Homo sapiens: one gene and its partner. The protein of the gene in region 2 interacts with the protein of the main gene of each other region in a biochemical or structural test. Each region holds a gene or a part of one and is shown on either strand. Other genes may lie near its edges.

What was found. Proteins that work in one complex are often made in the same cells at the same time.
Region 1: of the proteins of USP29 (region 2) and AIFM2, one has a biochemical effect on the other in vitro, tested with the Homo sapiens proteins (one study listed by BioGRID).

The regions. Positions count from the first base shown.
Region 1 is NC_000010.11:70,129,805-70,137,229, forward strand, and holds the start of AIFM2 (ferroptosis suppressor protein 1), read right to left. Parts: upstream 3,022-7,425; 5' UTR 2,930-3,021; intron 1-2,929. UniProt on the Homo sapiens protein: A NAD(P)H-dependent oxidoreductase that acts as a key inhibitor of ferroptosis.
Region 2 is NC_000019.10:57,122,966-57,129,986, reverse strand, and holds part of USP29 (ubiquitin carboxyl-terminal hydrolase 29), read right to left. Parts: intron 5,949-7,021; 5' UTR 5,848-5,948; intron 1,328-5,847; 5' UTR 1,312-1,327; coding exon 1-1,311.

The sequences.
Region 1 (7,425 bases), on a different chromosome or scaffold from region 2:
TATACAATTTACCACTTAAGATGTAAGTTCACAGTGAGCTATGATTGCACCACTGCACTCCAGCCTAGATGAGACCCCATCTTTTAAAAAAAAAAAATGAGATGTAGGCTGACTCACACCTCTAATCCCAACACTTTGGGAGGCCAATGCAGGCAGATTGCTTGAGCTCCGGAGTTCCAGACCAGCCTGGGCAATATGGTGAAACCCCATCTCTACAAAAAATACAAAAATTAGCCAGGCATGGTGGCACATGCCTGTGGTCCCTGATATCAGGAGGCTGAGGTGGGAGGATCGCTTGAGCCTAGGAGGTCGAGGTTGCAGTGAGGCATGATCATGCCACTGCACTCTAGCCTGGGCGCCAGAGCAAGACTCTGTCTCAAAAAAAAATTTTTTTTAATTTAAATTTCAAAAAAAGATGTAAGTTCAGTGGGTTTTAGTGTATTCACCAGGTTGTGCAACCATCACAACTATCTAATTCCAGAACACTTCCATCACCCCCAAAATAAATCCTGTACCCCACCTACCCTAGCCCTGGGTAGCTACTAATGTTCTTTCTGTCTCTATAGATTTGTCTGTTCTAGACAATTCATGTAGATGGAATTATACACTATGTGGCTTTTTGTTTGCGACGTCTTCCACTGATCATCATGTTTTCAAGGTTCATCCGAGTTGTAGCATGTTATCAGTGCTTCATTCCTTTTCCTGGCTGAAAAACAGTCCATTACTGGTGTATGAATAGACCACATTTTGTTTATCCACTCATCAGCTGACGGGCACTTGGGTTGTTTCCACCTTTTGACTATGTGAATAACGCCACTATGAACATTTGTGTACAGGTTTTTGTGTGAACCAGTCTTCAGTCCTCTTTAGTATATATTTAGGTATGGAATTGCTGGGTCATATGGTAACTTGAAGTTTAACTTTTTGAGGAACTGCTAAATCCACCATCTGATTTTGAACTGAACACCAAAGCCCCAGTGGGAATCACAGAGAATCTTAACTATGTCTGTCTAGGTTCAAGAATGTTAGCTTAAAAGAAGGCCTAAGAGAGCGGAACAAACCCTGATTGTCCAGGAACCCCTCAGTAACTTTACCTTTGCTCCCTGCCACAACACACATACACACAGACACACACACACACAATCTGATTTACACAAAAATTTGCTCAGTCAATCCTGTTTTCTCTGCCAAGAGCATCCACCCTGATCTCAAGGGTATTATTCCACAATAAGCAGCCCATAGGACTACTGAAAAACCAGGAAGTTACATTTATGCCAAAGCTGTTCAGAGGTTGTGCCTCAGAAGACACACAGCAGGAACCGTGTGGGCTCTGATCAAAGCAAGAATGTCATCCCAGAGTTGCTCCAGTATTGCTTCACAAATATTACAAATAAAACACGATGCTTTTTGAGTCGTCATGGCTCACACAAAGGGTAGGTTTCAACATCAGCCTCTGGAGAGCCACATTCCCAGAGTGGCCGTCCCGGATAAGAAGGCCACTACAGCACGACTCACAGCACCATGGAGGTTTCCTCCACCTGCGGGACACAGCAGGATGGAGACGGTTGGGCGGCCTCCCTTCCTGGGACACTCCATGGCCAGCCCCTCAGGGACTACTTGAAGAACAGAACCCCCAAAAGACCAGTTTCTGAAAAGGGACTCAAAGTCTAAGGGAGGCAGCCTCCTTTTATCCCCAGGGGAGGGCAGCTCTGGGGCAGACAGGTTCATCTGGATGTCATATTCACTCCCGCACAGAAAACCTAGGCCAAGCAATTTGTCCATCCTCCTCAGAGCCAGTTTTGTGGTCCCCATGGTCTGCCCACCACCTGTACCTGGACGCTGGCTTCATTTGGCCACCAGACAAAAGTCAGGCTGGCCCTGGAGTCCACCGGCCTGCCCAGCCCATCACTTCTGGGCTAGGTAGTGCTAAGCCTGCCCAGCCCACCCTGGCTGGGGCTCAGTGCCCTCTTCTTGGTGACACACTGTGCTCCTTGGAGAACTCCTCTCTAGGTGCTGGGGTGAGGGCAGGTGTGATCTGAGATCCCGGGGCTCTCTGGCAGGTGCATGCACGCACACTGGAACCTGATACAGGCTTTTGAACACAGGTGCACAGTCCAGAAACCTGCAAGTCCCATCCCAAACTATATCTGACTCTCTGCCCTATGCCTGTCCTCCTACAGGATCATCAGCCCCCAAGAGACCTCACCACTCCCCATCCTCACCTTAAATTCCAGGGTCAAAAAGACTCTCCTTGTAGGGAAAGGTAGGGTGTGTTGATCAGGTGGTGTTGGAAGGAGAGCCCCAATATAGGCCACTAATTCAGTTCCAGGTGGACTGCACGCGTCCCATCAGAGTTAGTTTACTCACCGCTGGTCTTTGTCCCTGCAGCACCCAGGGCTTCGGGAAGGGAGAAGCAGACTTCCTAGTGCTGCACCCCCCAGCTCCCCCGAGCCTATGGGCACTGGGTTGACTCCAGTTTCTTTCCTCTTAGAGACTGAGGTTTCTCCCTTTCCTCTCACACCTGCTTCTGTCCGGACCGGCCGCTTCTACCCAGCGGACCCTCGGACGGTCCTCGCAAGATCCGGGTTACACCCGCCCCGTGTTCCCTCTTCCCCGGTTCGCCCTTCCCGGCCTAAGCCCATCTTCCTTAGGAAAACTTAGCAGGGATTTAGGGGCCAAACCAGGAGGGTGGAGTTTTCTTTGCCCTCGGCCAGGAGCACATCTCCCTGTTGCGTTTTTTGGGGGAGACAGAGAGGGGCGGGCCTGAGTCGAGTATCCCTCTCCTCGCAGCGCCACAACTGCGCGCACCGACCTCCCCACGCCAGACGCGGCGTGAGCCAGGCCTCTAATCCGCTCGCCCCTCTTCCGGGTCCCGGTCCCGCCCGGGGCGCCCGGGGTCTCGAGAGCCCGCCTGGCGGCGCGATCTCACCTGTCGGCCGCGCCCGCGCGCTCTCGCTCCGGCTCCCGCTCCCGCTCCCGCTCCCGCTTGGTCGTCTTCCCGAGTTACTGACCCGAGGCGCTCCCGGGCGGGGCGTGACTCAGCACTCGTGCTGGTCCCCGACCCCGCGGCAACGCCCCGGCCAGGCCCCGGAAACGGTCCTGGCACGCTGGGGCTGGTCTCCGAACGGCCCGCCGGACTAACCTTGACCCTGAGCGAACGGCCTTGAACTTTGAAACAAATGCTCCCATGGCCAGATGTCGCCTCTCCGGCTCCTGCCAGCACCCGCGCCCCAGTCCTGCCGAGCCATTCAGACTTGGTTTAAAGTGTCCTTTCAGCATACTTTAAAGCAAAAAAGAGAGAGAGAGAGAGAGAGAGAGAGAGAGAGAGAGAGAGAGAGAGAGAGAGAGAGAGAAGGAAGGAAGGAAAACAAGCATCCCCCTGTTCCTCTGATTTTCTCGAGGACACCTTTAAAGCCACTGGAACCTTGGAGAGTGGGGTTCCCCTCACACGTTGGGCGCACTGCCAACATCCTTCCTTCAGACATACACATAATAATTCCGCAAACCCTGTTGAGCTCCTACATTTGCCAGGCACTGTGCTAGGCGTTGGAGGGATAACTTGGAGAGAAAACTGACAAGGTTCCTGCTTTCACGGAGGCGACAGTCTGGGAAAAGACAGATATTAAACACACCACCAAAAAATACATGTATAGAGAAAACAAAAACCATGTATCACCAACTGCAGTAAGAAAGATTGGGCATGGCCAGGCACGGTGGCTCATGCCTACAGTCCCAGCACTTAGGGAGGCCAAGGCGGGAGGATCGTTTGAGCCCAGGAGTTGGAGACCAGCCTGGGCAACATAGCGAGACCTACAAAAATTAGCCGGGCTTGTTGGTGCACACCTGTAGTCCCAGCTTCTCGGGAAGCTGAGGTGGGAGGATTGCTTGAGCCCAGGAGTTTGAGGCTACAGTGAACCATGATCATTCCACTGCACTCCAGCCTAGGTGACTGTGAGATTCTGTCTCAAAAAAAAAATAATAATAATAATAATAATAAATGAAATGAAATGAAAAAATAAAAAAGAAAGACTGAGGGCAAAGGAAGGGTGCAAATACTTCTCTCCAAGGATGAGAAAGAGGTAGATTTAGGTAAAGAGGAAGGAAGTGTGGTCTGGATGTGCAAAGACCCACAGGCAGGACAATGACCTGGAAGGCAGTGTATTGCCAGCTCAAATCAGACCAAGCTAACTCAGCGAAAGATAAGCCATCTCCATCTACTTACTGCAAATATTAGCACCTACTTTAAGAGTTGTGGATAAGGGCCAGGCACGGTGGCTCACGTCTGTAATCCGAGCACTTTGGGAGGCCGAGGTGGGTGGATCACCTGAGGTCAGGAGTTCGAGACCAGCCTGGCAAACATGGTAAAACACTGTCTCTACAAAAAATTAGCCTGGCATGGTGGCACATGCCTGTAGTCCCAACTACTCAGGAGGCTGAGGCAGGAGATTCACTTGAACCAGGAAGGCAGAGGTTGCAGTGAGCGGAGGTCATGCCATTGCACTCCAGCCTGGGCAACAAGAGCGAAACTCCATCTCTAAAAAAAGAAAAAAAGAGTTGTGGAAAGGCCTCAATGAGATCATTTTTATAAAGTGTTTTAACATGGTGCCTGGCACACAGTAGCAATGAATACACAGCAGCCATTTATTATAGATATTTTATATTGCAGATTATTTTGCCCAAGGCAACCAGAATGATTTATTTTTGATGAAAAATCCTACTCATCGTCTTAGAAAAACAATAAGCTAATATTTATTGATCACGAACTAAGTGCTTTGAATGACTTCTCAAGTTTTTTTGTTTGTTTTTGTTTTTTTCACAAAGGTCCTGCAAGGTAAGTTTTATTAATCTCCATTTTGCAGATAAGGAAATTTAGGCTCCTAGAGGCTAAAGAATTTAGGCAAGGTCCCTCAGCTAGTAAAGCAAGGGGGTGGGCCTACAATGGAGGTCTGAACCATGACCCCTTTTTGGGGGGTAGGGGGACGAATCTGGCTCTGTCGCTTAGGCTGGAGTGCAGTGGCATGCTCTCGGCTCACTGAAGCCTCCACCTTCCAGGCTCAAGCGATTCTCATGCCTCAGCCTCCCAAGCAGCTGGAATTACAGGCACCTGCCACCACACCCGGCTATAGTAGAAACGGGGTTTCACCATGTTGGCCAGGCTAGTCTCAAACTCCTGGCCTCAAGTGATCTGCCCACCTCGGCCTCCCAAAGTGCTGGGATTACAGGTGTGAGCCACTGAGCCCAGCCTGAACCATGACCTTAAAGCCAGGAAACCCCTCAGCAAGCATCATCCCTAAGGAGCCAGAGGGCACTGCTCAGGCAAAGCAGAATCTCAGTTGTGGGGAATTTACTGGGCATGTACCCAGTAAGATGTGACACAGAGAGGTGAACAGAGAGGCTACAGCCTGCCCACTGCACGGAATCAGCCCTGAGGCTTGGGATGGTCATGGAAGGCTTTGTGTAGAAGGTAGGCGTGCAAGGATGAAGGGGATGCCAGCTGGCAGGATGCAAGGAAAGGACTCCAGAAAGAGCAGGACAAAGATAAAGCTGGAAGAGAGGCGAGAGAGGTGTGAGGTGGCCCAACACTGGGCTCAGGTGTGCCAGGGCTGGTGTGGCCCATCTCTAAGGACCTGTCCCAAACCATGAAAAACTTTTTTTTTTTCCTTAAGACCTGCTACAAAGCAACAAACCATGAAAATCAAGGAATTTTTCTGATTATCACTCAATACTTTCTTGGCAACCAGAAGACACCTCCATCCAGGAGAGGGGACATGGTCTCATGCAACCCCTCCAGGTAGCTCACTGCACACCACTCCTCTGGTCCCACTCAGCAGTGCCCATAGCTTTGGAACTGAAAATCAGGGCTCGCTGCCTAAAAAAGGGGTTTTGTCTCTGAAATTCCAAGTGCCAGAGGTAGCAGGAAAGTGCGGTGGTTAGGATCCTGAAAAAGTGGCAAGTTCATTCCATGGAACTTTGACGGTTAGTGGGGAGAGCAGGCAGATTGTCTAACATGACGGAATCTAAGAGGAGGAAGCGTTGCTGGCTCTCTGCTGTAATGAGCTCAGCCAGGCCTGTGGGTACTTCCTTACAGACAACAGGTGGCTTTTCTGCTGGCTCCCAGGGCTGGAGGAGCTCCAAGGTACTGGGTCATCTCAGGAGCCCAGAGAAACAGAGGCAGTATGCCCACTCGAAGAACAGGCAACTCTTAGATCTGAAGAGCCTGGTAAATGTTCTCCTTTTCCATACGTAGTTCCAACGAAATTTGTAAGCTTCAAAGAAGAGAGGAATATCCTCGTTTCTTCCTCTCTCCCCCAACACATGATTTGGTATAGTGTTCCCAGCTAGGGAGAGGCTATATTAATGAAGGTAAGTTCTGCTGCAATGACCAATAGATTCCAAATGTAATGGCTCAAATACAACAGAAGTGCACTTCTTGCTAGGGCATGAGTTCCAGGCCAGTGGACTGGTTTATGAGGCTGTCTCCCTTCACACAGGCATCCAGGGACCAGGCTAACAGGACATGGCAAGTGAGTGCCACTCATGGTCCCAAATTAGATCTTTGTTTTTCTTTTTTAGAAACAGGGTCTCCCTCTGTCACCCAGGCTGGAGTGCAGTGGCATGATCATAGCTCACTGCAGCCTCGAACTCCCATGCTCAAGCCATCCTCCTGCCTCAGCCTCCCAAGTAGCTGGGACCACAGGTGTGCACCACCATACCTGGCTAATTTGTGTGTGTGTGTGTGTGTGTGTGTGTGTGTGTGTGTGTGTTTGAAGAAACAGGGTCTTGCTATGTTGCCTAGGCTGGTCTCAAACTCCTGGGTTCAAGCCTCCCAAAGTGCTGGGATTACATGCGTGAGATACAGCACCTGGTCTCAAATTAGGGAGCTCATCAGTTCTACCTCCTGTGTTGTCACTTGATCTCACCACCACCAGTCCTGCCTCAGCCATCTTCTCTCTCACCAAGCCACTGTAACTGGTCCCTGGGCCTGTCTTGCACTTTTCCAATTTTCTCTCCACAAGGAAGCTGTGCCACACTTCCTTGTCCCAGCTCCTGCCACTCTCAGCCTGGAACACTCTGTTTCCAGTCCACTTGGTAAACTCTGAACTCTCTTTTCATGGTTCAGAGCCTGAATCACCTTGAAGCCTTACCTAACCCACCCCTTCTGGGCCCCCAGACATACTCTTCCCTGGACAGAGCTTCCCTGCTTATTGCACTAATGGGCTGACACATCAGTCTCCCCAGAGTAGCCTGTGGGTGCCTTGATGCCTGTATTAGTCCGTTTTCACGCTGCTGATAAAGACATACCTGAGACTGGGATGAAAAAGAGAATTAATGGACTTACAGTTCCACATGGCTAGGGAGGCCTCCCAATCATGGCGGAAGGCAAGGAGGAGCAGATCACGTCTTACATGGATGGCGGCAAGCAAA
Region 2 (7,021 bases):
AATAAGGGAGAGCTGCAATTCAAACTCAAAATTAGCAACAACAGGGCAAACAAACACTTTGGTGGCAGCACTACCAACATGCATTTGTGGAGATGAATTTTCATCCCCACATTCTTTCCCAGTATTCAAAGTGGCATTTAATTTTTCCATGTCTTCTTTCAGCTGGTCTAAACACTGACCTAAAAACTCATGAGCATCATTCTGCATGTTGCCAGAAAATATTTCTGCAACTGCTGAAATGACTTTTTTAACATTCCCAAGTAATTCTCTCTTGATCTTTGTACTACAGAAATCTTTCAAAGCAAGCAGCTGGGTCAAGGTCATAATAAGAGCCTCAAAGGGAATATATTCCCATGGGACACCTTGAGTGAGTAAGTCATCAGCAAAAGATGGAATTGCAAATAGCGATTGTAAAACTGCATTCATGTAACAGGTGTTTCCCAAATTGGGGAACCCCTGCTGCAGTTGCTGTGAATGAGAGTCAAGAGGCACCTGGGCTTTGTTGCATCTTGGGTCACCCTGGCTGTGCTCTGGTTCCAATGGAGATGTCAAACCATTTTTGGCATTGAGAGTCTGGGTTGCAAGAACAGTCTCATCTAGGTTAGGATTTCCATTACAGTTGGTATTGAATGAAGGCCCGAGTTTCAAATCTCTATCTTTTTCTAAATCCTCTAAACTTGATGGGTTCTTCCTATTGCTTTGTATATATTTCAAGGAATCTGTCTTATATTTCTTGTTTGGTACAGGGTTATCTTCCTTCAGAATGTCCTCATTTGTCTGTACATCAGATGATAGTGTGTTTTGCCCCTTCCCACCTTGATTTTCTAATATCCCCTTTTTCACATGTGTTGGTGATTTTGACATAAACAAAGGCATCTTCTGATAACTTGGCTTGTTACAAATGCTGTAAAATGAAGTTTTGTCAATTTCCTTCAGCATATTCCTGCTTTCAAACACACTCCAATCATCATCAGATTTCATGGGTTGCTGAGATTTGTTTTGGTGGATTATGTCCAGGAACATATTCAACTGTTTAGCATCTCTGTAGGATAATTTGTCAATAAACAAGAACACGTTGTTTTTCAAAGTTAAACGCAGGTGACTTTGTCTTTTTTTACAATGTCTAAGGACCACACTTCTAATGTTGTTGCTCAGCTGAAAAATTCTTATAAATTTTCCAGATTTGAAAGTGACCACCAGTTTAATTTCCTTTTGTCTTTGCACTGTTTCAATGAGAGCTTCTTTCAGCTTAGTCATCCCAGTCTTCTGGCTCCAAATTTGGATGAATCCACATACCTTTAGAGATATCATCCTTTCTTTATGTAACCTAAAGAAGAAAAGCACACATGCATTTTAACCAAGAATATATTAACAGTTATATTTTATGAAAAACCTCATCCACATATAATAATGATTTATTTTTAGTCTTCTTATGCTCTAAGTAAAATACTCTTTTGGGGTGCTAATATTCTGAAGCTGTGCCAGTTCTCCAGAAGACATAGACTGAGGCACACGCATTTTCAAGGGAGCTGTTAGGCGAGAAAGAATATACAAATGGCCAACAGAGATATGAACAGGTGCTCAGCATCACTGCTCATCGAGAAAATACAAATTTGGTTGGGCATGGTGGCTCACGCCTGTAATCTTAGCACTCTGGGAGGCCAAGTGGAAGGATCACTTGAGCCCAGGAGTTCAAAACCAGCATGGCAAAATAGGGAGACCTCATCGCTACATAAAATTTTTTAAAATTAAAAAAGGGGCGGGGCCAAGATGGCCAAATAGGAACAGCTCCGCTCTGCAGCTCCCAGCGAGACCAATGCAGAAGGTGGGCGATTTCTGCATTTCCAACTGAGGTACCCAGTTCATCACATCGGGACTAGTTAGGCAGTGGGTGCAACCCATGGAGGGCGAGCAGAAGCAGGGTGGGGCATTGCCTCACCTGGGAAATGCAAGGAGCCAGGGACCTCCCTCCCCCAGCCAAGGGAAGCCGTGAAGAACTATGCTACTCGCCCGGTTACTACGCTTTTCCCACAGTTTTTGCAATCTGCAGATCAGGAGATTCCCTTGTGTGCCTACACCACCAGGGCCCTGGGTTTCAAGCACAAAACTAGCCAGCTGTTCGGGGAGACACCGAGCTAGTTGCAAGAGTTGATTTTTTTTTGTACACCAGTGGTGCCTGAAACCCCAGTGAGACAGAACCATTCACTCCCCTGGAAAGGGGGCTGAAGCCAGGGGGCCAAGTGATCTCACTCAGCAGGTCCCACTCCCATGGAGCCCAGCAAGCTAAGAACCACTGGCTTGAAATTCTCACTGCCAGTGCAGCAGTCTGAAGTTGACCTGGAATGATGGAACTTGGTTGGGGGAGGCGCATCCGTGATTAATGAGGCGTTAGTAGAGTTTTCCCTGGACAGTGCTAAGGAGGGTGGGAGGTTTGGACTGGGCAAAGTTCACCACAGCATGGCAAAGCAGCTGTGGCCAGACTGCTTCTCTAGATTCCTCCTCACTGGTCAGGGCATCTCTGAAGAAAGGGTAACAGTCCCAGTCAGGGGCTTACAGATAAAATTCCCATCTCCCTGGGACAGAGCACCTGGGGGAAGGGGTGGCTGTGGGCACACAGCTTCAGCAGATTTAATCTTTTCTGCCTGCTGGCTCTGAAGAGAGCAGCTGATCCTGATAAGAGGGATTTTCCCAGCACAGCACAACAGCTCTGCTAAGGGACAGGCTGCCTCCTCAAGTGGGTCCCTGACCCCCGTGCCTTCTAACTGGGAAAGAACTCCCAACAGGGGTTGAGAGACACCTCATGCAGGAGAGCTCTGGCTGGCATCAGGCTGGTGCCCCTCTGGGACAAATCTTCCAGAGGAAGGAACAGGCAGCACTCTTTGCTGTTCTGCAGCTCTGCAGCCTCCGCTGGGGATACCCAGGTGAAAAGGGTCTGGAGTGGACCTCCAGCAAACTGCAGCAGACCTGCAGAAGAGGGGCCTGACTGCTAGAAGAAAAACTAACAGAAAGCAACAACATCAACATCAACAAAAAAGACCCCCACACAATAACCCCATCCAAAGATCAACAGCCTCAAAGATCAAAGGTAGATAAATCCACAAAGATGAGGAAAAACCAGCACAACAACGCTGAAAAATCCAAAAAACAGAATGTCTCTTCTCCAAATGATCGCAACTCCTGTTCAGCAAGGACACAAAACTGGACAGAGAATGAGATTGATGAATTGATAGAACTAGGCTTCAGAAGGTGGGTAATAACAAACTCCTCTGAGCTAAAGGAGCATGTTCTAACCCAATGCAAGGAAGCTAAGAACCTTGATAAAAGGCTACAGGAATTGCTAACTAGAATAACCAGTTTAGAGAGGAACATAAATGACCTGATGGAGCTGAAAAACACAGCATGAGAACTTCGTGAAGCATACACAAGTATCAATAGCCAAATCAATCAAGCAGAATAAAGGACATCAGAGATTGAAGATCAACTTACTGAAATAAGGCGTGAAGACAAGATTAGAGAAAAAAGAATGAAAAGGAATGAACAAAGGCTCCAAGAAACATGGGACTATGTGAAAAGACCAAACCTACGATTGATTGGTATACCTGAAAGTGACGGGGAGAATGGAATCAAGTTGGAAAACACACTTTGGGATATTATCCAGGAGAACTTCCCCAACCTAGAACGACAGGCCAACATTCAAATTCAGGAAATGCAGAGAATACCACAAAGATATTCCTCGAGAAGAGCAACCCCAAGACACATAATCGTCAGATTCTCCAAGGTTGAAACAAAGGAAAAAAATGTTAAGGGCAGCCAGAGAGAAAGGTCGGGTTACCCACAAAGGGAAGCCCATCAGATTAATAGTGGATTGCTCCAGAAACCCTACAAGCCAGAAGACAGTGGGGGCCAATATTCAACGTTCTTAAGGAATTTTCAACCCTGAATTTCATATCCAGCCAAACTAAGCTTCATAAGCGAAGAAAAAATACAATCCTTTACAGACAAGCAAATGCTGAGGGATTTTGTCACCACCAGGCCTACCTTACAAGAGCTCCTGGAGGAAGCACTAAATATGGAAAGGAAAAGCCGGTACCAGCCACTGCAAAAACACACCAAAATATAAAGACCAATGACACAGAAGAAACTGCATCAACTAATGTGCAAAATAACCAGCTAGCATCATGATGATGGGATCAAATTCACACGTAACAACATTAACCTTAAATGTAAATGGGCTAAATGCCCCCAATTAAAAGATACAGACTGGCAAATTGGATAAAGAGTCAAGACCCATTGATGTGCTATATTCAGGAGACCTATCTCATGTGCAAAGACATACATAGGCTCAAAATAAAGGGATGGAGGAATATTTGCCAAGCAAATGGAAAGCAAAAAAAAGGATGGGTTGCAATCCTAGTCTCTGATAAAACAGATGTTAAACCAACAAAGATCAAAAAAGACAAAGAGGGCATTACATAATGGTAAAGGGATCAATGCAACAAGAATAGCTAACTATCTTAAATATATATGCACCCAATACAGGAGCATCCAGATTCATAAAGCAAGTTCTTAGAGACCTACAAAGAGGCTTAGACTCCCACACAATAATAGTGGGAGACTTTAACACCCCCCTGTTAATATTAGATAGATCAATATTATCATCACCACATAGCACTTATTTTAAAATTGACCACATAATTCGAAGTAAAACACTCCTCAGCAAATGCAAAAGAACGGAAATCATAACAAACAAGCTCTCAGACCACAGTGCAATCCAATTATAACTCAGGATTAAGAAACTCACTAAAAACCACACAACTACATGGAAAGCCTGGCTTCACCACTTACTGCTTTTGTAACACTAAGGCTGAAACTCAACCCTCCTGAGTCTTACTTTCACATAAGTGAAAATGGGACTGCAACAATAATAACGACTTCTTAGGATAAGTCATTGGGCTAAAACAGCTCAAAATTAATTGTCGACATCATATTCCTATTGCTAATCCTAGGAATATATTAAACTACCTCATATGGAGAAAATTAAGGCTCCATCATGGGAGGAAAGGGAGTTTAGTGACTTTTATTACAGGTTTATTGTTTGTTGTACTACATCACTCTATATGATGCTCCTGAATGACTACTGGTTAAATAACAAAATTAAGGCAAAAATAAAGAAGTTCTGTCTGGGCACGGTGGCTCACACCTGTAATCCCAGCACTTTGGGAGGCTGAGGCAGGTGGATCACCTGAGGTCAGGAGTTTGAGACTAGCCTGGCCAACATGGTGAAACCTGGTCTCTACTAAAAATACAAAAATTAGCCGGGCATGGTGGCAGGCACCTATAGTGCCAGATACTGGGGAGGCTGAGGCAGGAGAATCGCTTGAACCCTGGAGGTGGAGGTTGCAGTGAACAGAGATCTCGCCACTGCACTCCAGCTGGGGAGACACAGCAAGGCTCTGTCTGAAAAACAAAAAACAAAAACAAAAACAAAAAAAAAACAAAAAAGAAAACCAAAAAAAAAACCCCACAAAAAACAGGGAGTAAGGAAAAGGAGTAAGATGGCGAGTTGTTGTGCTAGCTAATTAGCAAAACCGAGGTGGGGAGAGAGACAGAGAAAGGGAAATATGAAGAGTGAAAAAAAAAAAAACATGAAGGGAAAGACATCTCAAAACACAAACAGGTTTCAGAAAAAATAAAAAATATCTCTCTGAATTTGCTCCCTCCCCTTACTCATTTGCCCATTTCTCCCCAGGCAGTGAGGAATGCCTACTTCCTTCCAACATTCCAATTTCAGGAAAAGCAGTGAAATCCCAATGAAACCAACAGAAAAAGTTGCCCTTTGCTACTCACAGTTCTTTCCGAAGAAACTTGAGTCAATTTACTGAAGTTTAAGCTTTGGAGAGCTGTCCATGGTCACACTGCAGGCAGAGCTCTGACTGCCACGGCTGTTACTAGGAAGAAACAAAAAGGTCAGAGTCCTGAAACTGAGGTTTATTTAAAAAGTCTGCACATAGTCCCAACCATCTTTCATGTTAATTTATTGCATTATATCTTAGAAACTGGGAAAACCAACCTTCCTCCAAAGTCGTTTACGTTAATTTAATCTGGGAGAAAACCTCCTGTGTTAATGGGATTATCTCTAAATGCATTCCTAAAAGTGCCCCTCCCCAATTACACAGATTAGATTAATATATCAACTGACTTCACATTCATTGGTTTTCTTGGAACTCTGCCACAACAAGACCTTCTAACAACATTTGTTGTTTGAGAAACCTTATACTTTATGGGTCTCTAACTTAAAGACTAGTTCTGACTTTGCTTACCTAGAACTTTAAGTATCTTTATTTTTTTCTTGTTACAAAGAGGCACTACAGAGAGGATGCATCGAGATCACACATTGTACATTCCAACTTCCAGGATTCCAAGCCCGGCTTCACCGCTTACTGCTTTTCTAACACTAAGGCTGAAACTCAACCCTCCTGAGTCTTACTTTCGTATAAGTGAAAACGGGATGGCAACAATAATAGCGACTTCTTAGGATAAGTCATTGGGCTAAAATGGCTCAAAATTAATTGTTGACATCATATTCCTATTGCTAATTCTAAGAATATATTAAACTACAGGGATGCCTCATATAGAGAAAATTAAGGCTCCATCATGGGAGGGAAGGGAGTTTAGTGACTTTTATTACAGGTTTATTGTTTGTTGTACTACATCACTCTATATGATTTACATGCCTTAATACCATTTAATTCTGCAAGTGACCATATGATATTCAATTTTATTACATTTAACATAGTAAGAAAACTGAGGTCCAAATGCATTATTAATACATTAAGGGACTTTTAGGAGTCACTCAGCTAAAGAAACAGGGATGTGTAATCAGAAATGGCTGCTGTTGATGGGTGCCCACATTTCTTCAATGTAGGGCATGAGCTATACTATGCCAAACCCAGCAAACCATGTGGGAAGCAGAAAATCTTCCATGATTATAATTAATGTGTCCTCAGTTTCCTGAGAGATC